Homo sapiens: one gene and its partners. The protein of the gene in region 1 binds, or shares a complex with, the protein of each later gene. Each region holds a gene or a part of one and is shown in the gene's direction. Other genes may lie near its edges.

The links.
Region 2: DRC8 (region 1) and DRC3 share a complex: the UniProt entries of both Homo sapiens proteins name them as parts of the nexin-dynein regulatory complex.
Region 3: DRC8 (region 1) and DRC4 share a complex: the UniProt entries of both Homo sapiens proteins name them as parts of the nexin-dynein regulatory complex.
Region 4: DRC8 (region 1) and DRC7 share a complex: the UniProt entries of both Homo sapiens proteins name them as parts of the nexin-dynein regulatory complex.

The regions. Positions count from the first base shown.
Region 1 is NC_000001.11:244,964,715-244,972,699, forward strand, and holds the start of DRC8 (dynein regulatory complex protein 8), read left to right. Parts: upstream 1-4,967; 5' UTR 4,968-5,271; coding exon of another isoform or gene 5,272-5,538; intron 5,539-5,540; coding exon of another isoform or gene 5,541-5,610; intron 5,611-5,611; coding exon of another isoform or gene 5,612-5,704; coding exon 5,705-5,729; coding exon of another isoform or gene 5,730-5,823; exon of another isoform or gene 5,824-5,856; intron 5,857-6,097; exon of another isoform or gene 6,098-6,155; intron 6,156-7,794; exon of another isoform or gene 7,795-7,985. UniProt on the Homo sapiens protein: Component of the nexin-dynein regulatory complex (N-DRC), a key regulator of ciliary/flagellar motility which maintains the alignment and integrity of the distal axoneme and regulates microtubule sliding in motile axonemes.
Region 2 is NC_000017.11:17,975,844-17,982,865, forward strand, and holds part of DRC3 (dynein regulatory complex subunit 3), read left to right. Parts: intron 1-1,712; exon of another isoform or gene 1,713-1,738; 5' UTR 1,739-1,755; coding exon 1,756-1,915; exon of another isoform or gene 1,916-2,133; intron 2,134-5,145; exon of another isoform or gene 5,146-5,388; coding exon of another isoform or gene 5,389-5,448; exon of another isoform or gene 5,449-5,817; intron 5,818-7,022. UniProt on the Homo sapiens protein: Component of the nexin-dynein regulatory complex (N-DRC) a key regulator of ciliary/flagellar motility which maintains the alignment and integrity of the distal axoneme and regulates microtubule sliding in motile axonemes.
Region 3 is NC_000016.10:90,032,669-90,039,690, forward strand, and holds part of DRC4 (dynein regulatory complex subunit 4), read left to right. Parts: intron 1-49; coding exon 50-256; intron 257-2,964; coding exon 2,965-3,019; intron 3,020-3,712; coding exon 3,713-3,918; intron 3,919-4,563; coding exon 4,564-4,731; intron 4,732-5,093; coding exon 5,094-5,180; intron 5,181-7,022. UniProt on the Homo sapiens protein: Component of the nexin-dynein regulatory complex (N-DRC), a key regulator of ciliary/flagellar motility which maintains the alignment and integrity of the distal axoneme and regulates microtubule sliding in motile axonemes.
Region 4 is NC_000016.10:57,725,784-57,732,305, forward strand, and holds the end of DRC7 (dynein regulatory complex subunit 7), read left to right. Parts: intron 1-284; coding exon 285-500; intron 501-1,048; coding exon 1,049-1,159; intron 1,160-1,515; coding exon 1,516-1,626; intron 1,627-2,606; coding exon 2,607-2,801; intron 2,802-5,147; coding exon 5,148-5,287; intron 5,288-5,381; coding exon 5,382-5,475; 3' UTR 5,476-6,022; downstream 6,023-6,522. UniProt on the Homo sapiens protein: Component of the nexin-dynein regulatory complex (N-DRC) a key regulator of ciliary/flagellar motility which maintains the alignment and integrity of the distal axoneme and regulates microtubule sliding in motile axonemes.

The DNA.
Region 1 (7,985 bases):
ATTTTATAAAGAAGCAGAAAAACAGTGATGGCTGGGCCCAGTGGCTCATGCCTGTAATCTCAGCACTTTAGGAGGCTGAGGTAGGATTGCTTGAGGTCAGGAGTTCAAGACCAGTCAGGACAACATAGGGAGACTCCATCTTTACAAAAAATAAAAAATTAGCTGGCCATGGTTAATCCTGGTTAGCACACCTGTAGTCCCAGCTACTTGGGAGGCTGAAGTGGGAGAATGACTTGAGTCTGGGAGGTCAAGGCTGCAGTGAGCCCACCACTGCACTCCAGCTTGGGCAACAGAGCGAGACTTTGTCTCAAACAAAGAAACAAACAAACAAACAGACAGACAAAACAGTGACTCTGAAATCAGAACTAGATTCCTAACCAGCTCTCTTATTTACTGGCTGTGAGCTTTAACCAAGCCATTTATGTGAAGATGTGGTATTTTTATCTGTGAAACGTGAATACTAATACAATACAAAGTACCTCATGCAGCTTAATAAAGAAGAACTACTTTTATTATTATAACTGTAATGAAACTATGTCCTTATTCTGTTGTATTCTGATAAGGATTTCCTTTTGAGATCATAAGCTCAGGGACTCATCTATGAGGAGGGGTGGTGTCTTCCATGAAGGGCTGGATATTTTTGATGATGATCATTCAGGGAAGGCATGTACCCTCAGTTAGGAAACTGAAATTAGACCAGAGAACTACCTCCCTCCCTCTCACTGTCCTGCATCTACAGCTCAAGGAATCCAGATACCCTTACAGGCCCTCCTGAATAGCAAGGTGGAAACAAGGAAGGGGCCACAAGCTGAAGATGATAAGCTGTACGGTGTAAACCAGATCGCATGTCATACAGGCAGCAGATTACAGCAGTGAAGGGTAGAAACCCTGAAGTCAGAACATCTCCCGTTGTGCATTTGAAGCATTAGAAAAGCAAACTCTCCTAGTGGAAGGTGAATTTCAGGACAGAAGGTGGGGTTTGGCGTCTGAGTGCTTCTGCCCAGGTGGAATGGGGCTTATTTCAGTAGATTTCCTTGCAAGTCCTTTAAACTTCTCGAAGCTTTCAGTTACATCTATTGCGCCTCGTGAAAACTCTAAAATAGGAAGTTTGGACATTGTTACTTCTATTTTTATGAGTTAATAAGTTTTAAAGAGATTACATGACTCGCCCAGGATCATGAGATTAGTAAATGGCAATGCCCAAGGAAAATCCAGTTTTTTTAAAAAAAAATTATTCCCAGTCCAGATTTCAATTATCTCCATATTAGGAAAGTAAACAGGGCATGAAGGATTTTTAAACTATCATTTTGCATTATTCCCACCACTTACCCTTTCCACTTCACTCACATCTTAGGTAACTGAGTCAACTGCATTCAAAAGAAACATTTTTGGGGGGAGAGGGGAGGGATAGCATTAGGAGATATACCGAATGTAAACGACGAGTTAATGGGTCCAGCACACCAACATGGCACATATATACATACGTAACAAACCTGCACGTTGTGCACATGTATCCTAGAACTTAAAGTATGATTAAAAAAAAGTAAAAATAAGTAAATAAATAAATTCCTTTAAACAAAAAGAAACATTTTCTGTGTTCCTCACGGACACATCACTGATGGCTGTCTGAACAGATTCAACTCACTATAAATTCAAGCATGCAAAAGGACATAACCTGTACATATCCACCTGGCTCCATAGAGTAATTAAGCAAATAAGTGTCATTGTCTAAAACTATGTGCTTGCTTTTCTGATTTAGCCCTAAGTTTATATATCCATGAGTGGGATCAAAAACGATTTTCCGATTCTAAATTTCTGAAAATCACGATGAGATGTTTAAGTGAAAAAATGCTTTGGCAGCATACAATATTACAAGTTACTCAAGTATTACAAGTTAACAAGTTACTCAAGCTATAGCTCAGAAGCCATATACATATATATGTGTATATATGTAGAGTATATATGTATATATACACATATATGTAGAGTATACATATACGTAGATGTATATATACTCTACATATATGTATACGTATACATATACGTATATGTATACGTATATGTATATATACATCTATCTATCTATCTATCTATATATATATATATATTTTTTAAGATGGAGTCTTGCTCTGTCACCCAGGCTGGAGTGCAATGCCATGATCTTGGCTCACTGCAACCTCTGCCTCCTGGGTTCAAGTGATTCTTCTGCCTCAGCCTCCTGAGTAGCTAGGACTACAGGCTTGCAGCACTATGCCCACCTAATGTTTGTACTTTTAGTAGAGACGGGGTTACACCATATTGGCCAGGTTGGTCTCGAACTCCTGGCCTCGTGATCTGCCCACCTCGGCCTCCCAAAGTGCTGGGTATACAGGCATGAGCCACCGTGCCCGGCCGCAAAATATATTCTGAGGAATAAAAATGATTGTAGTTAGTTTTCCACAGTCCAAAGCAAGCTAATAATATTTAAAGAGTTAAAAGTGTAATATAATCATCGGTCATGTTTCTACAACCAAAGAGAGTTGAAAGGAGTCAAATATCAGCATAATGCAGATAATGTACTCACTGGCATTGTGGGCCTTTATTATTTGGATAATCATTTTCACCTTGTGGAGACTTTTCCAGAATTATATACTTTTATGCCTAATCAGCAAATTAGGCAGTTGAAAAGTATGTATGAAGCAGCTAATATGTGCCCCAATTAGGCTAGGTAGTGTGGGTATATAAAAAGGGTTTATAAAGGGGGAGGCTCCTATTCAAACCTTAGTGGGGTCAGGAGATGCGGAAGTTAATTAACATATATTAAATATTTTTTTACTCACCCACACCTAGAGAAACAGTACTGTTTTAAATGTGCTGTAGGAGTTCAGAGAAATACTGATTAATGTGGTTTGGAATAAATTAAATAATAAAAAGCTTTGCTGAATACAGTTAGTTTAAAAAATATAAAAATATAGGGGGATTTGCAGAGAAATCTGTTCAACTCTTAAAATAATTTTTAATTTATATATGTTTATATAAGAATTCCATTTTATTAACATGAAATACTAGTACCTTTTTTTGGGGATGGAGTCTTGCTCTGTCATCTGGGCTGGAGTGCAGTGGCGGATCTCGGCTCACTGCAACCTCTGCCTCCTGGGTTCAAGCGATTCTTCTGTCTCAGCCTCCCGAGTAGCTGGGATTACAGGCGTGAGCCACCACATTCGGCTAATTTTTCTATTTTTAGTAGAGATGGGGTTTTACCATGTTGGCCAGGTGGGTCTTTAACTCATGACCTGAAGTGATCCACCCGCTTCAGCCTCCCAAAGTGCTGAGATTATGCGTGAGCCACCGCGCCTGGCCCAGTACTTTTACTGATGAAAAATGTAATGTAAAAGGAAGGTCTGTCTTACATACAATAAGTGCTGAATCTGGGTCTTTTTTAAAAAAAGTCATTGAGAAGACTTACTCCTTTCTTAAGTTTTAAGACATTTATTATTGCAAACAGAAAAATTGTACTAGATACCGGGGATATATAAACGAATAATGCCGTTTCTGTCTTCAAGATCTTACTGTTTGGTAGGTGGAAATAAAGTGAACGAACGAAGGCACTGCAAATCAATGTGGGAGGCTCTATAAGCATGGGGCCACAGAGGAAAAGGCTGAGAGGGAAAGCTTCAATGACTAGGTGACTTCAAAAAGGTCATCCTGGCCAGGCACAGTGGCTCACACCTGTAATCCCAGAACTTTGGGAGGGCCAGGCAGGCGGCAGATCGCTTGAGCTCAGGAGTTTGAGAGCAGCCTGGGCAACATGGGGAAACTCTGTCTCTACAAAAAATACAAAAACTAGCCAGACATGGTGGCGCGCGCCGCTCCTCCCAGCTACTTGGGAGGTTGCGGTGGGAGGGTCACTTGAGACCGGGAGGCGGAAGTTGCAGTGAGCAGAGATCACACCACTGCACTCCATCCTGGACGACAGAGCGAGACCCTGTCTCGAAAAACAAAAGACAAAAACAAAAACAAAGGTCATCCTGCAGGACAACCAGGAGGGCACAAATGTGTGTCTGTGGGAAGCTGAAATGTTGGCGGGGGAAAAAAGCAGGGAAAGGCATTCCAGAAAAAGGAAACTGTAAACAGCACACGAAAAAGCATAGTGAATGAATAGGAAGCCTGAGACCAAACTTAGGGTTTCCTACACTTATTTCAAAGCCCTTCATTATCTATATGGAAAGGGGGAGTCTTTAAACACAAATATTTAGATCATATTGACTGAGATTTAGATATAAATGAATGCTAATAATTACTTTTCGTTATTTTGGGGTGTTAAACATTTACTGTACAAGATTGTATTCGTTTTAAGTATCTTCTAACATGAGCCATTTTGTAATGATTCAGTTGTTTATATTCAATTTCAAGTAGAATGCTGATCACAGCGCCAAATGGGTATCTTCTACAGAAAAAGTTATTTTAATAAAGAAAAATATAGTCAGTTTTAGGATTTCCTGAGAGATTATAGAAACAATAAAAGCATTAAAACTGTTAAGTCATTAAATACGAGTACCTTGTATTTTGAAGGCTCTTAAAATTTAGTTTATAAATTGCTTTTACATAACATATGCACTGAAATACCACTTAAGATTAGTTTTGAAAATAGGTGTTCGTTTCAACCACATCATTAGGTATTTTATTCAAAGCTCTTTATAAAAAGAGCTTTACTATGTTCCAGTATAGTAAACTTATCCAGAAAATAAGACAAAAATTTAACTTCATGCTATAGCTGCAAAGTTTTCGGAAAGCGGGATTTAAAACTTCCATTGTAACTTTAACTAGCGGTCATGTCAAATTTCACAACTAAGAACATTTTAACGCATGTAATACTGAGCACAACATGGGCACGTTTTTGTTGCTATGAGAACCTTCTATTTTGTATTAGACATTGCAGCCTTGACGACGCAATGTTTGTGCTATTTTGCGCATGTTTTCCTGCAGCTATTCCTCTCCTCTAGCAATAGTCGAATGGCTCTGGTTTCCTCTTGCGCCCGGCCCAGTTTTTCCGTTTTAGCTTCGGTTGTCATAGGCTGTGCTGTCGCTTTCTCTGGGAAAGGACGGTGAAGACTGGACGGGAGAAACCGGGAGGGCAGGCGCGGCCGTTCTGCAGCAGCCGGGCCGCTTCCCGGCGGGAGGCGGGCTGCGAATGGGAAGCGGGAGGAGGAGGCCGGGCCGCGGGCTGGTTCTATCACCCCCTTGGGAGCCCAGCTCTTCACCTAGCTCTCCGGCGCTTTTCAAAATCTGCAGTTAACAACAAAAATCGAGCAACGCCACGTCGCACAAACAGGACAGGAGGGGGCGAGGGGTGTGTGCGCGCGCGTGCTGTCCCCAAATGGATGAGAAATAAGGGAAAGGAGGGGTTGGGGACCGTGTGATGAAGCAACATGCTAGGCCCGGGACAAGTCCGGCTCCGGCCTCGGGTCTGGAGGGACAAGGCCGGGGGCCGGGTGGCAGACGGGGCCTCTGGTCTTCCCCCAGCGCGAGGGTCGTGGCGCGAAACGGGGACAGGGCGCGCGCTCGGAGCCTCCTCCCCGCCCCGCCCCGCCCAAGGGTCTTCCTCCCCCGGGATTCAGAGCGGCCCCTCCTCCAGGCCAGGCTCGCCGCGGGGCGCTGAGCAGGCCGGGACACCGCGGCCGAGGTTATCGTTAGGCATCTCCCAGGCGACCGGCTCCGCAGCAAGATGGCGGACGAGAAGGACAGGGAAGGTAAGGTAGGGGAGCCGGGGAGCCGCTGCCCTCGCCGCCCGCCGCGACCCCGGGCTGCACGGGGAAGCGCCGGGTGGGGTGGGCCCTCGTCCATCTGGAGTTCCCACCCGCAGGGAAAGGGCGGCCTGAGGAGGGGGCCACCCGGCAGCAGCAGTCGCCCTGCCCCCGTCCCCGTAGCCCGCCCGGCCCGCCGCTCCGCCCCGCCCCGCCCCGCCTCTCTCCCCCGCCCCGCCCCGCCTCTCTCCCCTCTTCCCTCCCTCTTCTCTCTCCCCTCCTCCCGCCTTCTTCTTTCTCCTCCCGCCCTCTTCACCCTCTTCCCCTCCTCCCGCCCCGTCCTCCTTCCCCCTCCCTCGGAGGCCGGGCCTTGCATCCTGCGCGGGCTGCGCCGGAGGCGCCGGCAGGGGGTGCTGATAATGGCGTCGTTGTTCACGGTCGCGGGGAAGCCGCCGCCGCCTCCACACTCTCGCCTGGGGTCTCGGTGCCGCAGGCGCCACGCCCGTAGCTGTCCAGGCTGTGGGCCCCGGGGGGTGGCCTGGGTGAGGAGGAGTTCTGGCCGCCTGAATCTGACGGGATCCTCTGTTTGCGCCGAAACCCCGCGCTGGCGCAGCCTGATGGCGTTCGCGGCCACCATTTTGCCTCCTTAATGAGGACGCAGGAGGACGGTCTGGAGGTCACAGCCGCTGCCTCCGAGCTTCCCGGTCCTCCGAAATGCCTGCCCCGCCGCCGGCTAGCGCCGCGCAATTGGCCTAGTGTCTTGTCTTAAAAAAAAAAAAAGACACACACCCAAACAGCAATTTTAATAACGACGAAAAACCAAAACCTGGTTGAGATCTTGGAACCGCTGTGCGCCGGCCGGGCCTCTCCCAGGGGACCACCCAGCCCCGCGCGGTGGCCGCCTGCAGAGGCGGGACTGCGCTTCGAGGCTTAAGGTCGCCAGTTCGGAGGCATCGATGTGTTGTCTGTGCGGAGAAGCCAAAAAGTGATTACGTTTATTTGCAAGACCGTTCATGTTGTTTTCAGTTCATGGTATGATTAAAACCCGATCCTTTGTTACCATGCCCTTAGGTACTAAAAAATAATTGTGTTTGATAGTTGGCAGTCACCCAAAAATATCCAAAAAGCCATGAAACAGTAAAGGTAAACAAGTAGGAAGTGAAAATAATATTCGTCCTTTGTTTTCTTTCTGGAGTGCTCAAAACACCCTCTCAAACCATTTTTCTCAGCATAGAACCAAGTGTGGTCAGGTTAACAGCTAATATTTACAAGGGAAGAAACGAACCCTGAGATATTTAGTCACTTGTTCCGGTGATCACAGAAAATCGGCGAAGAAACACATGAAACTGCCAACGATCTCTCTATTGATAACAAGGATACCGTGATTTTTATGTAATATTAATCTGAGAAGCCAGGATTATTTTGTAGGTATTAGCTTTACGAAGATGCCCTTACATACAAAGAAAAGGATAATTTTAAAACTTTCCCAGAAAAATGGATGGCTTATTTTTGTTCTTTACCAAAAAAAAAAAAAAAAAAGCCATTAGGAGATAAACTAGCAAGGTAATTATGGATATTTATTTTCTTAAAAAAGACTTGGTTAGGTCAGCATGAGAAAAAACGCACTGGAGTATGGTACAAATACAGTATTTCTCGTTTTTTAAAAACTGAGAGCTTTCCTGATTTTTCAGCTTTTGAACAATTTTTTTCCATTTAAAGTAAATTCAGAGAAACAATTTTGTCGATAACTCATAGAAGTAATGACTGTTAAAAGCTGGATGCCATTCATTCAGAATACATATATTCAATGCCATTATGTAGATAAGGCATTCTACTTAGAACTTTGAAAGATACGAAAATGAAAGACATTGTCTTTGCTTCCAAGGAAGGTGAGATGAGTAAGGGAGATGAGAAATTTACAAATGGGAGGAAATAGTTAACTGGGCTGAGTAGTCTGGGTGCCAACCACTGTGCTAGGTGTGTATCCTTGTAGTCCGTGGACAGCAGCCTGGACATCACTGGCTGCCACCGACCTAATAATGAATCAGTCTTCATTTTAACATGTTTGTAGGTGATTTGTATGTACATTAACTTTCGAGAAGGCCGGGCGCGGTGGCTCACGCCTGCAATCCCAGCACTTTGGGAGGCTGAGGCGGGCGGATCACGAGGTCAAGAGATCGAGACCATCCTGGCCAACATGGTGAACCCCGTCTCTACTAAAAATACAAAAATTAGCTGGGCGTGGTGGCACGCCCTGTAGTC
Region 2 (7,022 bases), on another chromosome or scaffold:
AGTGTGCACAAGAGCTCATTGGGACATTTGATGAGGGACAGTTCAGGGCAGAGGATGCATATTTGCAGAAGCTGCATCCAAGTGGATGGTCAGGGAGGCAAGAGGAGGGCAGTCTTAGAGGGAAGTCTCTAAGACCAGGTAACAGGATTGTATGGCCCAACCTGGCTTTTCAGCAGACACCATCAGCCCTGCACCAGGAGTTTCTCCAGCAGTGCCCAGTGGAATGAAAAACAGAGCACAGGGGCTGCCTAGCATCAGGGACCAGCAGGGCAGAAGGACAGGAGGTTCAGGGAGGCCCAGATGCTGGGAAGGCATGTAGACAAAGATAGGAAGTAGGGCCAGCAGGGAGGCAAGAATCAGGGGTGGAAAGTGGGGGAAAATATCCCTCCTGGATGTCCTCACCAAGAGGGTTGATAAGGATGAGAATGTGGTCCAGCCACGAACGGCAGCCTGGAGTCAGCCTCACATTGTGACTGACCAAATCTACAGATCCCCCCTGTGCTGTGGTGTCTCAGTCAAATCCCTCTGGACCATTAGCAACAGAATCTACTGGAGGCTGGGCACGGTGGCTCATGCCTGTAATCCCAGCACTTTGGGAAGCGGAGGCAGGTGGATCACCTGAGGTCAGGAGTTTGAGACCAGCCTGGCCAACATGGTGAAACCCCGTTTCTACTAAAAATACAAAAAATTAGCCAGGCGTAGTGGTGGACACCTGAAATCCTAGTTACTCAGGAGGCTGAGGCAGGAGAATCGCTTGAATCCGGGCGTTGCAGTGAGCTGAGACCGCGCCATTGTGCCCCAGCCTGGGCGACAGAGCGAGACTCTGTCTCAAAAAAAATAAATTAATTAAATTAAAAAATAACCTACTGGAGCTAGCTTAAGTAGAAGAGGATTTCATGTGAGAAACAGGAAACTCTCATGAGGCCTGGACCTAGGGACATTAGGGACTGGAAAGCCAGCAAGAAGGAGGCAGCCTCTGTCTGTGTCGATCTGTCTGTCCTTTGTCTTTTGTTTTCTGATTCCCAGGTTCCCATCTCTGCTTTTCTCTGTGCATCTGCCTCCTCCCCCTCTTGCTCTCTGCTTAACTATGTACCCAGCCAGCCCACACTCCCTATTCCTCCCCAGCTCAAGCAGCCAGCTCCGATGGGCACTCTCATTCCACAGCCTCAACTTCACATCTCCCACGGGGAGGACGTGAATGGGCAGCTTGGGTCAGGGGCTCCCTCTGCACCAGGAGAAGCTTGTGGTGTGGTGTGGGGCATACACACATGACGGCCTGGAGGGGGTGAGGTGCTCAAGGAAGAGGAGCTGCAGGCTGACAGGCCTGGCTGGGGCTGCCCAGGGAGCACAGTCAGTGGTTGGTACCCACAAGCCCAAGTGAGGATGGGCATACAAAGTCAGAGGCCTGACACAGGGCCACAGTCATAAGATGAGTCAAGATCACAGGCTAGGGAGACCAGTGTGGACACCAGTCCAGTGGGTCCAGCGAGGGTCCCAGCTGTGGCTGTAGGGTCAAGGGATGAAACCCTGTGGACAGGCCCAGGTGGTTGCCAGGAAGCCCTGGAGCAGCCTTGGCGTAAGTATACAAACCCCGAGATGCAGCAGACCCAGGGCTGGGCGTGGGGCATTCCTCAGAGTGCCAGTGGCCACAAGACACTACAGGGGGAAACCTCAGCCAGACCCTGCCCTCAAACAGAGAAAGAAGCAGGCCGTGAAGGAAGAATGCGGTGTTTTTTAGGGAAAACGTGGGGGAAGATGAACCAGCCGTGCAACTCGATGGAGCCGAGGGTGATGGACGATGACATGCTCAAGCTGGCCGTCGGGGACCAGGGCCCCCAGGAGGAGGCCGGGCAGCTGGCCAAGCAGGAGGGCATCCTCTTCAAGGATGTCCTGTCCCTGCAGCTGGACTTTCGGAGTATGTATCCAAGGTTCAGGGGTGGTGGCCAGGGTGGGCCCTCCCTGGCTTTCTCTGCTCCATCTTCAAGCCCCAGGATTCCATGCAAAGTCCACGGTCGAGGTTCCCACATCAGCATTAGGGCCTACCTGGGTTACAAGGCATAGGAGCAGCACAGATGTTTGTAAAGCGTCATACTTAGTGTCTTCATCATTTGAATATCCACGACGCTCCGGATTCTGAATAAGAATAGAAAACAAGATAAAATTGTCCCACGCCAAATCTAAGTGAGCCCCCAAGACTATGCTGTTTCCATCACACAACTCCACATGGGTGTCCTTGGAGTGGGGGTCCCTGGCAGGCAGAGCCTAGGAAGTCCCACGTAGCCAGAAGCAGAGGGTAGGAAGTGTGGGAGAATGAGAGCGGGCACTGGGATGGCAGCTTCAGGGAAGGGGTGACCAAAGACAGGCTGGTAGCAGGAGGAGCACAGGCCCTTGAGGCAGGGAGGCACATCAGGAGTGAGAAGATGTGGCTCAGGACCAGGCGGACCCTCACTGCTTCAATGTCCCGTCTGTGGAATGGGATGGCTGTCATCCCTGTCTCGAGCATTGGGTGGGGGGACAAGGTGAGACAGCACGTGCACAGTGCCTGGCTCACACAGCAAGCCAGGCACAGTAAGTGAAGGCAGAGGCAGTACGAGGGCAGTGAGAGAGGTGGGCAGGGATCCTGAGACCCCCCTTTGTATCATGTGCAGGCAAGGCCACAGCAGAGTGACCTGGTCTGATTCACATTCGTGCTCTGTCTTGGGGCCCCTAGGCTGGCCGGCATCCAGTCAACAACAAGGAGGTATTGAGACCCTGCCTCAGTCCAGCCCTGCTGCCAGAGCCAGGGACACGACAGTGGGCAAGTCAGGCATGGCCCAGGCACAGCCCCACGAAGCCCATAGGCTCCCAGGGCTGACCACCCAATCAGGGAGGGCCCTGAGCCACAGCCCCGGGAGGGGTAAAGGGGCACAGAACAGGTGCGGCAGGAGGGGGCTTTTGCAGCTGACCGCTTGCCCTCTGTTTCCCCTCCCCAACCTGAGGTTCATGCAGCCAGTATTGAACACCTGCCTGTTACATGCCAGGTACTGTTCTGAGCACTAGGGATTCAACTATGAGCAAAAAAAGACAAAAGCCTTGTCCTCATGGAGCTGACATTCAACTTGATGGGGGACAATTAAATAAAATGAAGAAGGAAAATAATACTATTTGCTAAACGTAATATGTGGTGTGGAGGAAAAAAGGAAGGAGAGGAGAAAAGGGAAGTTGGGGGTGGAGTACAGTGTTTTATAGAGTGGCCAGGGGCTTCACCAAGAAGGTAACAATTTAGCAACAACTTGAGGTAGGCAAGGGAGAGAGCTGCTGTGCAGATCCACCAGGGAAAGTGGAGCAGCCAGTGCAAAGGGCCTGGGGCAGGCTGGACCCCGCCTTATCATCTCTGCTGAGGAAGCCACTGTGGAGAGACAGGTCGGGGAGGTCATGGTGTCAGCTTGGAGACAGTGGAAGGTGTTTGGCTCTTACAGTGAGTGAAGTGGGGACCCCGGGAGGGTCCTGAGCAGAAGTGGGACAGGATGGGACTTAGGATTTCACAGGACCCTGCTGGCTGCGTGAGGATAGACCGTGGAGGCCAGGGGCCGAGGCAAGGATCTAGTAAGATGGCCACTGCTGTACTCCAGTGAGTGATGACCACAGGCCTGGCCGAGGTGGTGGCCACAGGGGCAGATTTAGTGTCTTTGTTGAAGATTAAATCGGCTTTTTTTGGCAGTCCTGTCATGCTGGTAACTCATTTAGAGCTAACTGCCAAGTACATCCTGATTTGTTGTGTTGTTTTGGCTTTTCCTCCTGAACTGCTGACACCTGGGAAAAAGCCGGCATGCTGGCGTGTGTGGCAGAGCACCCGGTGTGCAGGAGCCACAGGGGGAGTGCTACTGCTGGGGGGCTGTCAGATCAGGGCCAGAAAAGGCACCTGGAAAATCCAACCCAGGGTTGGGAGGTGGCCGGGAGGCTGGGGCAGAACTGGCCCCACCCTGGAAGCACAGGTGGGAATTGTGGCCAGTATCATTCTGGGAAATCTGGCCACAAACAGGGAGCTGAAGAACAGGCACCAGTCCCACCCAGCCCTGGGAACCCAGGAGAGGCACTACGCAGCAATCCGGCTCTAGGGGAAGGGCAGTCCCACCCAGCCCTGGGAACCCAGGATAGGTGCAAGGCAGCAATCCAGCTCTAAGGGAAGGGCAGTCCCACCCAGCCCTGGGAACCCAGGAGAGGTGCAGGGCAGCAATCCAGCTCTAGGGGAAGGGCGGTGTGCCCCTCTGGACCTGGGTCAGAGAACCCTGTCCTCCCCAGAACTTTGTGCAGGGAGGGGAGCTAGGAGGGGTTCCCCACTTTCCCACTGGGACTTTCACAACCTCACAGGCAGGCTCTGCCCCTCTGAATGAATATTGAAACGGCAGCTGGACTGTATGTTTTTTTTTTGTTTGTTTGTTTGTTTTGTTTTATTGTTGTTGTTTTTTTTTTTGTAGAGACGGAGTCTCGCTCTGCCGCCCAGCCCAGGCTGGAGTGCTAGAGTGCAGTAGTGCGATCTCAGCTCACTGCAACCTCTGCCTCCTGAGTTCAAGCAATTCTCCTGCCTCAGCCTCCCAAGTAGCTGGAACTACAGGCATATGCGGCCACGCCTGGCTAATTTTTTTTATTTTAGTAGAGATGGGGTTTCACCATGTTGCCCAGGCTGGTTTCGAACTCCTGAGCTCAGGCAATCTGCCTGCCTCAGGCTCCCAAAGTGCTAGGATTATAGGTATGAGCCACTGCGCCCAGCATTTTTTTTTTTTTTTTTTTGAGATGGAGTCTCACTCTGTCGCCAGGCTAGAGTGCAGTGGCACGATCTAGGCTCACTGCAACCTTCACCTCCCGGGTTCAAGTGATTCTCTTGCCTCAGCCTCCAGAGTAGCTGGGACTACAGGTGTACACCACCACACCCAGTGAATTTCTGTATTTTTAGTAGAGACGGGGTTTCACCATGTTGGCCAAGATGGTCTCGATCTCTTGACCTCGTGATCTGCCCACCTCGGCCTCCCAAAGTGCTGGGATTACACGTGTGAGCCACCGCACCTAGCCACTAATTTGTATTTGTATTTTTTATTTTTTTGGCATGAATCTCATTTATTGAAAACATTATATTTCACCTTTCTCAAATTGAAGACTGCAAAAAATAAAAGCAGTGCTTTACTGAGTTCTCATTAACCTCAGGAGCAGCAGCGCTGCCTCTCCACGCTCCAGGAAACCCTGGCTCCCGCGTGCCACATCTGTCGCACCTCACTTTACAAAACAGTCCTGAAGCTTAATCAAATAAAACTATTGTACATTAGAAAAAGAGAGCTGGGTGTAGAAAAGCCAGGTGTAAGTTCCCTTTAAGCAAAGGCTGCTCTGCAGTTGGGGCATCTTTGCTTCCTCCAGGAAAAACAGCAGATGAACCCAAAGGGGAACAGGATGATGGCCAGGAGGATTCCCAGGAAGGTGAAGCAGTCCTCCAGCACCCTATCCCTGCAGACGGGACAGCCTCTCATGATGGCGATGGCATTGGCAGGGTACCAAGTGATAGTCCAGCTGTGGTCATTGTAGACCCTGGGGTGGTGGTTGGGTATCCCTGTGATGAGGTAAGGGGAGGGCGGGCAGCAGCAAGGGATGGGCAGCAGGGATGACGCTGTAGCCATGCAAGCTGCATGCATAGTTGCCCTGGCCGGCCCCTAGGTTGTAGGTGGGCAGCCACTCCCACAGCAGGGGCGTGTGGTCCATGGCAGCCCGGCTCAGGTCAGTCGGTCCTGGCAGGGGACACAGTGGGGGACGTGGCAGGGATGCAGCAGACTGGCTGGCTCAGGCTCCTCTGAGGCACAATGCCTCAGCACCGATTTTTATTTTTTTTTATTTATTTATTTATTTAGAGACAGAGTCTTGCTTTGTCACCCAGGCTGCAGTGCAGTGGCATGATCTTGGCTCACTGCATCTCTGCCTCCTGGGTTCAAGTGATTCTGCTGCCTCAGCCTCCTGAGTAGCTGGGACTACAGGGACACCAGCTAATTTTTGTATTTTTATTATAGAGACAGTGTTTTTCCATGTTGGCCAGGCTGGTCTCAAACTCCTGGTCTCAAGCAATCCACCGGCCTTGGCCTCCCAAAGTGCTGGGATTACAGGTGTGTGCCACCATGCCCAGCCACAGGACCAAATTTTTTTTTTTTTTTAAACAGTCTCACTCTGTCATCCAGGCTGGAGTTCAGTGGCGTAATCTAGGCTCACTGCAACCTCTGCCTCCTGGGTTCAAGCGATTCTCCTGCCTCAGCCTCCAGAGTAGCTGGGATTACAAGCGCGTGTCACCACGCCCAACTAATTTTTGTATTTTTAGTAGAGACAGGGTTTCACCATGTTGGCCAGGATGGTCTCCATCTCTTTTTTTTTTTTTTTGAGATGGAGTCTCGCTCTGTCGCCCAGGCTGGAGTTCAGTGGCGCAATCTCGGCTCACTGAAAGCTCCGCCTCCTGGGTTCACGCCATTCTCCTGCCTCAGCCTCCCGAGTAGCTGGGACTACAGGTGCCCGCCACCACGCCCAGCTAATTTTTTGTGTTTTTAGGAGAGACAGGGTTTCACTGTGTTAGCCAGGATGGTCTCCACCTCCTCACCTCCTGATCTGCCTACCTTGGCCTCCCAAAGTGCTGGGATTACAGGCGTGAGCCACCACGCCTGGCCCACAGCACCAATTTTGAAAACTTCTTTCACTTCTGTATTATTTCAGTTCTTTTAATGAGCATATTCTTTTTTTTTTTTTTTTTGAGATGGAGTCTCGCTCTGTCACCTGGATTGCAGTGGCGCGATCTTGGCTCACTGCAACCTCTGCCTCCCTGGTTCAAGCGATTCTCCTGCCTCAGCCTCCCAAGTAGCTGGGACTACAGACGTGCACCACCACGCCCAGCCAATTTTTTGTATCTTTAGCAGAGACAGGGTTTCACCACATTGGCCAGGATGGTCTCGATCTCTTGAACTTGTGATCCGCCCGCCTCGGCCTCCCAAAGTGCTGTGATTACAGGCGTGAGCCACTGC
Region 3 (7,022 bases), on another chromosome or scaffold:
TGAGGAGGTGTGGTGCAGGTGAGCAGATGGTACTCCCATTGCCCTGCAGGTGTACAAGCAGAAAGTGAAGCACCTGCTATATGAGCACCAGAACAACCTGACAGAGATGAAGGCTGAGGGCACTGTAGTCATGAAGCTGGCACAGAAAGAGCACCGCATACAGGAGAGTGTGCTGCGCAAGGACATGCGGGCACTGAAGGTGGAGCTCAAGGAGCAGGAGCTGGCCAGTGAGGTGGTGGTGAAGAACCTGCGGCTGGTAGGTGTGGCGGGGGCACCTGGAGGCTGACAGGTTGTTGGGACGGCAAGCCTAGTGCTGCATGAACTCCTGTTTATTCAACAGCAACTGGGAATTCATATTTCTGCATAAGACTTTCTGCATTTTTGCAATTTGTTGAAAAAAAATTTTTTAAAGCATGCATCCAAACAAACCCCATTTTGGGACCAAGTACACAATTCTGTCTCAGACCTGAGCAAAAAATTGACGTCACCGAAGAGAAAAAATCCAGCTTAGGATCTTTCATGTGCTGCTGACACCTGACACCCAGAGACTTTTCCTAGGGAATAGCATCATATGCATTTAGTAGAATGCAAACCAACCATTAAAATATCCAGTGTGTTGACTCCTGGGCACTGTGACAGTTTGTCACACAAGCTGGTCTGATTTTTACTTTTGAGGCTGGGGGTTTCCAGGGCACCATTAAAATTCATCTGTGCACCTGGTTCAGTGGCTCACACCCAAAATCCCAGCACTTGGGAGGGTCAGGTGGGAGAAGTGGTTGAGGCCAATAGTTTGAGACTAGCTTGGGTGAAATAGTTGAACCCCATGTCTAAAAAATTTAAAAGAAAACATTAGCTGGTGTAGTGGCACATGCCGATAGTTTCAGCTACTTGGGAGGCTGAGGCGGGAGGATCCCTTGAGCTCAGGAAGTCAAGGCTGTGGTGAGCTAGGATTGTGCCACTGCATTCCAGCCTAGGTGACAGAGTGAGACAAAACAAAAAGGAAAGAGATCATTTGCTGAGTGTCCATTAGCTGCTAGGTCCTGATCTGATCTCTGACAAAACGCCTGCCCGACTGGGGCTGTTGGTCTAGAAAGGAGAGACAACAGGTGAGTTGGAAGACAAAATAAACGTGCCAGATACAACAGAGTATCTGGTGGGGAAGAGTGCCATAGAAGGATCGAAGTGGGGAGAGGTGGGGTGCGGTTTTGTACAAGCAGTTGACCGGCTGGGAGACGGGATGGGCCAGTGGGAAAGCTCAGAGTGACCAGGAGGAGACTGTGGGAGAGGGTCAGAGCTTGTCCGCCTCGAAAGCCGTGGTGGGGACTGGAGACGGGTCAGAGCTCGTCCGCCTCGAAAGCCGTGGTGGGGACTGGGACTTTGACCCTGGTGGAGTCTGTTGCCCTCTGAGAACTTGGGCAGAGGAGAGATGTGTCTCACTAAGGTTCTTCCTGGCTGCTGGGTTGAGGAGACTTTCTGAACACATTTGCCTCACGCCTGGAAGCAGTCCAGCCTCCACTGAATCTGGAAGAAACTTGGTGACGTTGCTGACTTCGCAGCAAAGCCTGAGAGTGCCGAAGTCTTGAGCCCTCCAGAATTAGCTGGTCTTAACCCAGGTCCTGGATATGATATTGTTACATAATCAGAGTTTCCTGTTGGGTAAAAATATGGCTTTAGGCCGGGTGCGGTGGCTCACGCCTGTAATCCCAGCACTTTGGGAGGCCGAGGAGGGTGTATCACGAGGTCAGGAGTTTGAGACCAGCCTGACCAACGTGGTGAAACCCCGTCTCTACTAAAAATACAAAAATTAGCCGGGCGTGGTGGCGCACACCTATAATCCCAGCTACTCGGGACGCTGAGGCAGAAGAATCACTTGAACCTGGGAGACGGAGGTTGCGGTGAGCCGAGATTGTGCCACTGCACTCCAGCCTGGGCGACAGTGTGAGAGTCTGTCTCAAAAAAAAGAAAAATTACTGCTTTAAAAATAATTTATTTTTTTATGCAAATTTTAAATATATAATGTTTATTTAAATATATAATAATTGTTCATTAAAACTATATATTTATTTATTTTTAGAGATGAGGTCTCACTCTGTCTCCCGGGCTGCAGTGCAATGGTACAATCATAGCTCACTGCAGCCTCGAACTTCTAGTCTCAAGTGATCCTTCTGCCTTAGCCTCCCAAGTAGCTGGAACTATAGATATGAGCCACCACACCCACCTAATCTTTTTTTTTTTTTTTTTTTTTTTTTTTTGAGATGGAGTTTTGCTCTTGTTGCCCAGGCTGGAGTGCAGTGGCACAATCTCAGTTCACCACAACCTCTGCCTCCCGGGTTCAAGCTATTCTCCTGCCTCAGCCTCTCGACTAGCTGGGATTACAGGCATGTGCCACCATGCCCGGCTAATTTTGTATTTTTAGTAGAGACGGGGTTTCTCCATGTTGGTCAGGCTGGTCTTAAACTCCCGACCTCAGGTGGTCTGTCCAGCTCGGCCTCCCAAAGTGCTGGGATTACAGGCGTGAGCCACTGTGCCCGGCAATCTTTAAATTTTCTGTAGAAGATCTTGCTATGTTGCTTAGGCTGCCCTTGAACTCTTGACCTCAAGTGATCCTCCTGCCTTGGCCTCCAGCGTGCTGGGATGACAGGAATGAATCCTTTTAATATGCTGCTTCAGGCAGCAGTGCAGCAGGTTGGAAGCTACACACGGCACCTGGAAAGATCCCACAGCTCTGTGTGGATGTGGCTGCTGCTCTTCAGGCTGTGGGATGGTTTGGCGATGGAACCAAGCGGGTTCAGTGCTCACGACGTCTGTTCATGTTCTCTCTCAAGCTTAGAGGTGACTTTAGTTGAGGGAGGTGAGTTAGGGAATATGGAGGTGACCAAAACCATGAGGAACAGGGTCAGCCTGAAGGGAGCGGGCTTCCCTCTGTGTCCGGCTGTGTAGTAATGGCCGCTTCTCCCTGTGCAGAAACACACCGAGGAGATCACCAGGATGCGGAATGATTTTGAGAGGCAAGTTCGAGGTCAGTTTCCCGTGTGCTCATTGTGTAGGTGCCAGAGACACCCCCGCCCCATCAGAGAGGAATTTACCTCCAGAGCTTGTTAACTCAGGGAGCAAAAACTGGATTAAAACAGCCAAGGCATGCAAGAGAAAGAACATGGAAGTTTCCAAGGCCAGTGGACCCACTCAGAATCCCAGAACAACCTATTTCCATGTGAGTTTGGGAGGCTGTGATTACCACACACATTCCCACTCCTAGCTAAAATCAGTAGTTATCAGCAGGTGGTAGCTATTCAGTGCCGTGGGCAGCCTTCTTAAAATAGTCTTCTCCATGGCTCCTGGTCTGAGAAGGCTCCAATTTCAGAAGTCTCTGTGTTTTACTAATAAAGGCTGATTGTGGCTGGGTGGCCACACAGGCCTCGGTTACTGCTCACTGGGGTCAGCTGACATTCAGCTGTTGGCACCCCCAGTGCAGGGAGCGATTAGCAATGCCTGTCACTGGCAAAGGCAGGCCGACAGTGGTGTGTGTGCTGAGTGTGAGCATCAGCAGAAAAACTCAGTCTAAACCCCTTTGTTCTTCTCTTGCAGAGCTTTTGCCTGCAAGGCTGTTCTGACCACAGTGGGCGTTTTGGGCCCGTTTACAGGCTCCATGTTCTGTAGCCGTAGGGGCACCACGTCTTCCTCTGCTAAGCTGCTGTTTGCTGCTGCCTTTCAGAAATTGAGGCCAAGTATGATAAGAAGATGAAGATGCTGAGGGACGAACTCGACTTGCGGAGAAAGACTGAGCTCCACGAAGTGGAGGAGAGGAAGAATGGCCAGATCCACACGCTGATGCAGCGCCACGAGGAGGCCTTCACCGACATTAAGAACTACTACAACGACATCACCCTCAACAACCTGGCCCTCATCAACTCCCTCAAGGTGCTGTGCGTGGGCTGGGCTGGGGAGGCACACTCTGCCTGTCCTAGAATGTGGGCTGCAGAGTCCTGGGGATCCAGACCCCAGCTCTCCACCCCAACACACCCAGTACTTTTTATAAGATTGTTTGACAATGCCCCTCTCATATCCTTAACTGAAATTCCTAAATAACGTAACCTATCTCTACCTATTGTTAAAAGCAGTCAGGATATTGCCCTCACCGTAGTGCAGAGGGGGAAGTAATGAAGTGTGTTCTGGTTTGTAAAAGCTCAGATGGAACCGCAGTGAGGGCCGTGATGTGGCTGGAGTGGATAGGTGTCATAGTCACTGCCTGCGACAGGTGGATAGGTGTCATCGTCACTGCATGCTGGCAGTGACAGGATTTTCTACAGTAGACAACGGCCCTTGGTGGAATCTTGAACAAAGTATAGTCCTTCAGTCTGCATGGAAGCTGCATTCCCAGAAAACTCAGAATAAGTTGAAGCTGCAGAAATACTGTTTATACATAGAAGACGTCTAGGTGCCAGCATGCCTGAGGCTGGCAGCAGCTGGTGATGGGCAGGAGAGCACCCAGCTCTCACCATGCAGGCCACAGCCCCTTTGGTTCTGCCTGCTGAGCCCCTGCCGGGCCTGTGCTTGTGCCTGCAGGAGCAGATGGAGGACATGCGGAAGAAGGAGGACCACCTGGAGAGGGAGATGGCAGAGGTGTCTGGGCAGAACAAGCGCCTGGCAGACCCTCTCCAGAAGGCTCGGGAGGAGATGAGCGAGATGCAGAAACAGCTCGCAAACTACGAGAGGGACAAGCAGATCCTGCTTGTGAGTTTCCCGCTGGATTCCTCTCCCTCCTTGGCATGAGCTTGCCTAGGCTCAGGAGGGAGGAGCATCACAGGGAGGGGCTTGGCCCTTAGGGCAGGAAGGGAGACGGGGAGGCCTGCATTTCTCCTTTCTCTGCCTCGTGTTCTCCTGGGGAAAGTAAAGTCTGGGGGTGTTTTGGAGACAAGGCCCTCATCTTCACCACGTGCTACCGGCCGGCCTTGGTGAGACTCAGCTGCTTGTGTCCTGGAACCAGGTCTTTCTGGCGATTATTTTTGGCCTTGCCATCTCCCAGGAGCCCGTGTTACTTGGATGACTGTGAATCTTGAATACTTTCTGTCCCCTACTCCCTGTTTTTCCTCCAGTGCACAAAAGCCCGTTTGAAAGTCAGGGAGAAAGAGCTGAAAGACCTGCAGTGGGAGCATGAAGTGTTAGAGCAGCGATTCACCAAGGTGAGTGGCACCACGCTGGCCCTGCAGTTGGCGGTGGGTGTTAGAGCAACGGTTCACCAAGTTCACCAAGGTGAGCGGGCACTAGGCTGGCCCTGCAGTGGGGATGGCACCCCTGCTAGCCAGGGACGGGGCTCTCCTTGTGGCCCCTGGACCAGCTTCAGATGCCTTGGCCAGGTTTCTGGGTTCTGAAGCTGGAGGCCCTGTTCCCTGTAACTCATTCCGCAGCTTCTAAGAGGCAAAAACCTGTGGCCTGTTCTGCATGCATATTCTGCAGAAGGCCTGGGGTCTTGATGGGGAACGGATCACACATGACTTTCGTCCCCTCGAGAGCTCACCTCTGAAAGCACATGAGGGAGGCTCTTAAGTGTAAGTGAAGATGAGTCTCCGGCTGCTCAGTGCTGGTCCTCACACTGGCGAGTTTTATGGGCTCCCTTCCAGGTTTCCTGCATGCTCTCGTGTGGATGTGACTTTGTATGTTACGAACACGGGATCAGGCCATAAGCACAATTTGCTTTTTAATCTCACAGTGTATCAGGCTGCACATAGGAAGCGGTCTCATCCTTTTCACAGCTGCTTGGTGCTGCGTTTTGTGAACGTTTGATCATTTAGCCGACTCCCGTCTGTTTCTAATGCTCTGCTGCTATAAGCATTGCTGCCTCAATCCTTTTAAATTTGTCTTTGTGCACTTGTGTGAGATTGCTTCTTAGGAAAGCCAGTTCCTAGCAGTGGGATTGTTGAGTCTGAGGGTTCTGTTCTGAGGACCCTGATCATCTGTCCAGAGGGCTGCTCTGAGTCACACACCTGCCAGGGTGCGGAGGGGCCGTTTCCATCCTCACCTGCACCAGATCTGACAGGTTTAAACCTTTGCAGAAGTGACTGGGTGGAAAACATCTCATTTCGTGGGCACTTCCAAGATTCGCAGTGAGTGGTAGGGGTGCTCGGTCCTGTCTCTGTCCCTTAAAGACGCTCCTTGCCTCTGTTCAGTTTCAAAGTTCTGGCCAAGGACCAATCCCTGCAGCATGGGCCCCTCAAGGCTTTGTCTGTGGTGTGCGGGGCCAGGGCATCTTATCTTGAGCCGCAGTTATATGTGCTGTTTTGTTCTCTAACCTAATTGAAATTTTTGAACACAAACCGTTGTAGTGGGATTCGCTTCTCAGAAATATCCCATCTGTCTGTCAGATCTAGCCCCACCTTCAGAGACACCTCAGGTCCTGCACGACGTGCATTGCTAGGCTGTGCCAACTCTTGGCACCTAAGGGAAGGGCACCTGCAAGGTAGTCAGTGAGATCCTGAGGACTGCTGTGTTAGACAAGGGGCCCTTCCTTCTCCCTGTGGGTTTTGAGGTGGACATTATTGGGAAGAGGACAGCAGAGACGTGCCTGGGTTGGAGCCTTGTTTTCTGTCACATTTTCTTCCATTTGAATGTGGTTCCTGACAGTGTCCAAGCTGGTGTCTCTTCCTAGAGAACCGAGAGCTCAAATTTATCAGCAAAATTTAGAGACCAAGGCAGTTATTTATTTATTTATTTATTTATTTATTTATTTATTTATTTTTGAGATGGAGTTTCGCTCTTGTTGCCCAGGCTGGAGTACAATGGCACGATCTCGGCTCACTGCAACCTCCACCTCCTGGGTTCAAGTGATACTCCTGCCTCGGCCTCCCGAGTAGCTGGGATTACAGGCGCCTGCCACCACGCCCGGCTAATGTTTGGTATTTCTGATAGAGACAGGGTTTCACTCTGTTGGCCAGGCTGGTCTCGAACTCCTGACCTCAGGCGATCCACCCACCTCACCCTCCCAAAGTGCTGGGATTACAGGCGTGAGCCACCACACGCTGCTCAGG
Region 4 (6,522 bases), on another chromosome or scaffold:
GTAGGCTGCCTGGAGAGGTGGTGAGCTCCCCATCTCTTGAGGTAGGCAAGCAGAGTCTTGAAGGAGCTGAGGAGGGGCCCAGCACCATATGGGAGTGGAGTGGCCTGGCCCTGAGAACCCACGAAATCCATTGTCTGGCTAGGAGGGGCTATTCCACGTGAATCGCCAAACGACCCCAGACTCCAGTGTCCTGAACGTTCGTTGCTCCTGCCTGCGGGCATGCACAGAAATCTCCTCTCACACGCTCATCCTTTGCTCATCCTTTGCATGTTCTGGCCTCCCAGAAAATCACAGAGCGGTTCTTCCGCAACCCAGCGAAGCCCGCGGAGGAGGACGTGGCAGAGCGCGTGTTTCTGGTCGCGGAGGAGCGCATCCAGCTGCGCTACCACTGCCGTGAGGACCACATCACGGCCTCCAAGCGCGAGTTCCTGCGGCGCACCGAGGTGGACAGCAAAGGCAACAAGATCATCATGACGCCCGACATGTGCATCAGCTTCGAGGTGGGCCTGGGGGCCACGGCGGGCAGGGGTCGGCTGCAGGAGGAACCGGGGCTCTCTGTCTTATTCCAGCCACTTGGGAGAACCAGGATGGGCGCTGGTGAATCCCGGCGAGGAAATTCATCTTTGCTCTTTGGGAAAACCAAAAGTTCCCATCTGGGGACCCTTCTCTTTGAGCTCCTCTGAAAATCTTCCTTTTCCACCAAAAAAGCGAACTCAGCAGGCTAAGACGACTCTGCAGTCCTGGTCAGGGCAAACCTCAGATCCTAGGGAGGCTCTGTGGGAGGGGAAGAGTCTCACTACCTCTGAGGGGCTAGCTTTCCTAGTCAAACGCTCACTCTCCCGGCACAGTCCCCAGCTTTTCTGAGTCTTCAGTTCCTCTTTTATTATTATCTGTATTTTTATAAGTGAGAAAATTAAGGCTCAGAGAGGTTTAGCAACTTGCTCGAGGTCACACAGCTGGAAAGTGGCAGGGGTAGATTTGAACCCAGGTGGTCCTATGCCCCGATCATGGCAGCCTCTCTGTGTTACTAAGGTGGTTGTTGTCCCAGGTGGAGCCCATGGAGCACACCAAGAAGCTGCTCTACCAGTACGAGGCCATGATGCACCTGAAGAGGGAGGAGAAGCTGTCCAGACATCAGGTCTGGGAGTCAGAGCTGGAGGTAGGGTCCTGTGGGAGAGTGAGCAGGTGGGCGGTATCTTTGTTTTTGAGATAGGGTCTCGCTCTATAACCCAGGCTGGAATGCAGTGGCGCAATTATGGCTCTACATCCCGGGCTCAGGTGGTCCTCCCACCTCATCCTCCCAGGTAACTGGGACCACTAGCGCACACCACCATGCCTGGCTAATTTCTTGTTTTTGTTTTTGTTTTTTAACAGATGGGGTTTTTCCATTTTGCCCAGGCTGGTCTCAAACTCCTGAATTCATGCAATCTGCCCTCCTTGGCTTCCCAAAGTGCTGGGGTTACAGGAGTGGAGGAGGGGTGTCTCCATCACGCCCTCCAACACTTCTCATTTCAGGTGCTGGAGATTCTGAAGCTTCGAGAGGAAGAGGAGGCGGCGCACACACTGACCATCTCCATCTATGACACCAAGCGGAATGAGAAGAGCAAGGAATATCGGGAGGCCATGGTCAGTCCCAATCCCTTCTCCAGGCCCCAGCTTTTCCTAGACCCCCCTGGTCTCCAGGGTGGTGGGGACCATGAGGGATTCTGCTGAGAAACCCTCTGTGGGGGATACGGTTATTGATACCATGCGGTCATCCTTGCTGCTGAACTGACCATTTCTATGGTTCATCCCAAAGAGTACTTGGGATTTGGGCAAGGTTTCCCCCCATCCCCAGGGGCTGTAGCCAAGCCAAGGCCTGTGGTTGGGAAAAGAATTAAAATTATGTGCCCACCTCTACTCAGGGCTCCCACTGAGGTTGCACCCTGGGCCAGTGGCCCCAGTGAGCTACCTCTGGCTCCAGGCCTGAGCTCTCCTGCTCTCCAGCACAGGGAGGGCATTCAGGTTACACCTTCAGGTTGCAAGGCCCCGCCTGGTTTTCAGGGCCGGCTTCTGAATCCCTTTCACCAACCAAGTTGAGATTTTAGTTTGGGGGTCGTGAGGCAGGATGGGCATCAGATGACTGTTCTCAGATCCCAGGGGAGGGTGTCAGCCCCCACGTCTCCAACTTCACTGCCCCCTGTCTGCAGATGGAGGACACAGGCCCCAGGGTGGAAAAGAAAAGTGAAGGGAGTTACTGGCAGTTTTTAACTAACATCGTTAATAACCACTACCGTTGACTGAATAAGCATCTACTATGGATTGTCAGGCATCAGGCTGCGTGCTTTACAGACATGATCCTGTCAGATCCTCAGATCCTCAGAGAAGGAAACCAAAGCTCAGGTAGTGAGATACAAATTCATGTAAGAAAAAAAGAGTTGGCTGTCACCAGTAAACACAGGTCCAGAGACCAGCATGTGGGCCCTTCTAAGGCCCATCTTGGAGGCGCCATGCACTGGAACCTGGCTGTGAGGTCTGGCTTTGTGCTGGCACACTGCTGATGCAGAGCTGGTGGAGAGGTCTCTGTAGTTCCTGCTGATCCAGCTATCTGCCCCTCACCTTTACAGGAGCGCATGATGCACGAAGAGCACCTGCGGCAGGTGGAGACCCAGCTGGACTACCTGGCCCCATTCCTGGCCCAGCTCCCGCCAGGAGAGAAACTAACATGCTGGCAGGCGGTGCGCCTCAAGGATGAGTGCCTCAGCGACTTCAAGCAGCGGCTCATCAACAAGGCCAACCTCATCCAGGCCCGCTTTGAGAAGGTGCCACCAGGGCCTTTGTTGGGGAGGGGGGGATCTCAGCATCTGCATCCAGGAAATGGGCCCACGGCTGTCCGCCCACTACCTCACAGGCTTGTGAGGGCCTGATGACGGGATGAATATGTCAATGCTTGGGGTTTCCAAATGACTGAGTTGTTCCTCCTCACACTTGTTTATCGGATAGATGAATCGATAGGGGGATGGATGGATGTAGGTATGGATAGGTGGGTGGGTGGGTGGGTGGATGGATGGATGGATAGATGGGTGGATGAATGCATGGGTAGATGGATGAATAGATAGATGGGTGGGTGGATTGATGGGTAGATAGAGGGATGGGTGGGTGCATGAACAGATGGGTGGGTGGATGGGTGGATAAATGGATGGATAGATGGATGGGAGGATGAATGGATGGGTGAGTAGATAGATAGGTGTATGGGTATAGGTATGGATAGGTGGGTGGATGGATGGGTGGGTGGGTGAGTGAGTGAGTGGATGGATGAGTGGGTAGGTGGATGGATGAGTGGGTGGATGGATGAGTGGGTGGGTAGATGGATGAATGGATGGATGGGTGGATGGATGAATGGATGAGTGGGTGGGTAGATGGATGAATGGATGGATGGGTGGATGGATGAATGGATGAGTGGGTGGGTGGGTGGATAGATGAGTGGGTGGGTAGATGGGTGAATGGATGGATGGGTGGATGGATGAATGGATGAGTGAGTGGGTGGATGGATGGATGAGTGGGTGGATGGATGGATGGGTGGATGAGTGAGTGAGTGAGTGGGCAGATGGATGAATGGGTGAGTGGATGGATGAGTGGGCGGGTGGATGGATGAATGGATGGATGGGTGGATAGATGGATGGATGGGTGGGTGGATGAGTGAGTGGGTGGGTGGATGGATGAGTGGGTGGGTGGATGGATGAGTGGGTGGGTGGATGGATGGATGGATGGGTGAGTGAGTGGGTGGGTGGATGGATGAGTGGGTGGGTGGATGGATGAGTGGGTGGGTGGATGGATGGATGGGTGAGTGAGTGGGTGGGTGGATGGATGAGTGGGTGGATGGGGTGGGTGGGTGGATGGATGAATGGATGGGTGGGTGGGTGGATGGATGGATGGATGGATGGATGATGGATGGATGGGTGAGTGGGTGGGTGGATGAGTGAGTGAGCAGGTGGGTGGATGGATGAGTGGGTGGGTGGGTGGATGGGTGGATGGATGGATGAGTGAGTAGGTGGGTGGATGGACGAGTGGGTGGGTGGATGGACGAATGGATGGATGGGTGGATGGATGGATGGATGAATGGATGGGTGGATGAGTGAGTGAGTAGGTGGGTGGATGGATGAGTGGGTGGGTGGATGGGTGGGTGGGTGGATGGATGGATGGATGGGCGAGTGGATAGATGGACGGTTGGATGGGCGAGTGGATAGATGGACAGTTGGATGGATGAGTGGAAGGACGGATGGACGGATGGATGGATGGATGGATGATGGATGGATGGGTGAGTGGGTGGGTGGATGAGTGAGTGAGCGGGTGGGTGGATGGATGAGTGGGTGGGTGGGTGGATGGATGGATGGATGGATGAGTAGGTGGGTGGATGGAAGAGTGGGTGAGTGGATGGATGAATGGATGGATGGGTGGATGGATGGATGGATGAATGGATGGGTGGATGAGTGAGTGAGTAGGTGGGTGGATGGATGAGTGGGTGGGTGGATGGGTGGGTGGGTGGATGGATGGATGGATGGATGGGCGAGTGGATAGATGGACGGTTGGATGGGCGAGTGGATAGATGGACGGTTGGATGGATGAGTGGAAGGACGGATGGACGGATGGATGGGCAGGGATGGGTGGAGGGATGGGCAGAGGAATAGATGGGCAGATGGCTGGGTAGACAGAGAGATGGTACACTGTAACAACTCCTAGTCCTTGACCCATTTTTGTTGGTCAGGCACACACCATGTAGTTCCCGTGCACTACTAAGATTATGTCACTTAATCTTCACAAGGAGCTCTACAAGGGGAGGGGGGAGTACAATGACCCTCCTTTTGTAGACAAGAAATTGCAGGTTCTGAAAATGCCAGTAACTTGTCCAGAGCTACATGGCTCTCTCAGTCTTGCCCCGTTCTGATCTCATGGACATGACATCCCTATAAACATGACCCCACTGGCTCCCACCCAAGATATTTTGTGGCCCCTGCCTCTGTGGCAGGTATGGATAGGTGGCTTGTGTGAGTGGGGACACTGGGGCCAACCGTCATGGTGCTGTCTAGTGACCCATGGGATTGCAGCCTGCAGCCTGGGTGAAGGTCAGCCTTGTCAGTCCTCCTTCTCTGTCTGCCCTATGACCACAGGAGACCCAGGAGCTGCAAAAGAAGCAGCAGTGGTACCAGGAGAACCAGGTGACGCTGACACCCGAGGATGAAGACCTGTACCTGAGTTACTGCTCTCAGGCCATGTTCCGCATCCGCATCCTGGAGCAGCGCCTCAATCGGTGAGCAGGCAGGGCAGGTGGAGAGAACCCACTGGGAGGCTGGACCACCAGCTTTGTAACCCCTCACCCTCTTTCCTTGCCTCTCTGACTTCAGACACAAGGAACTGGCCCCACTGAAGTACCTGGCTCTGGAGGAAAAGCTCTACAAGGACCCACGCCTGGGGGAGCTCCAGAAAATATTCGCTTGATGTCCCTCCTGGGGCCTCAGCCAGAGCTGCCAGAGAAAGGAAACCTCTTCCCGCAGCCTGGCTCCTGTGTTCCCTCTATCCAGCCAATGCCTGTTTACACAGACACCTGGCCTCACTGCCAGCCCACCTCCCCTACAGCCCTGTTTGTTCCTGCTTCTCATGATTTTCCTGTAAATAAACACACTCTTAATTTGCCATTTGTGCCTTGCGCTTCACAAGCTCCAGCAGCAGCCTTTCTCTTCTTCTGTTATCTATAGCCTGGGACCACCCCCTTCCTCCCCTTGGCCTGTCGTTTGCTTCCTGTCCTTCTCTCCGTTGGAATGTCAGGTCTTCACAGCACCTCTGCAGATGGTCCCACAGCCATCTGCAAACAACTGGTTATATCTCAATGTGACTAGGGTGGCCCACCTCACCAAGTGGGATGGGGAAGGCTAAGATGCATGCCCCAGAATTTGAGGACTGAATCCCAGCTCCTCCTCTTACCAGATACCACTTACCCATCTGTGGAATGGGGTAGCATTGTTGCATTAAATAAGACTTATGGCCAGGTGTGGTGGCTCACACCTGTAATCCCAACATTTAGGGAGGCTGAGGCAGGAGGATCACTTGATCCCAGGAGTTTGAGACCAGCCTGGGCAACATAATAAGACCCCATCTCTAAAAAAAAAAAAAAACAAAGAGCCAGGCATGGTGGCATGAGCCTGTAGTCCCAGCTACTCAGGAGGCTGAGGTAGGAGGATCACTTTCACCTAGGAAGTCAAGGCTGCAGTGAGCCATGATTGCACCACTGCACTTCAGCCTAAGCAACAGAGCAAAACCCTGTCTCAAAAAAAAGAAAAAAAAGACATAAATTATAAAGCAGGGAGGCTGGGAATGGCACATAGAAAGCAGTCATTAAATGTTAGCTTACAAAATAGCCAAAAAACACATGAAATGGTTGTCAAATTCATGAGTCATCTGGCAAATGAAATGTCACAACACCCTCCGGTATGAAAAAAATAAAAAGTACTGGTGACGATGAGAAACAACTGGAACTCCCAAATAGCC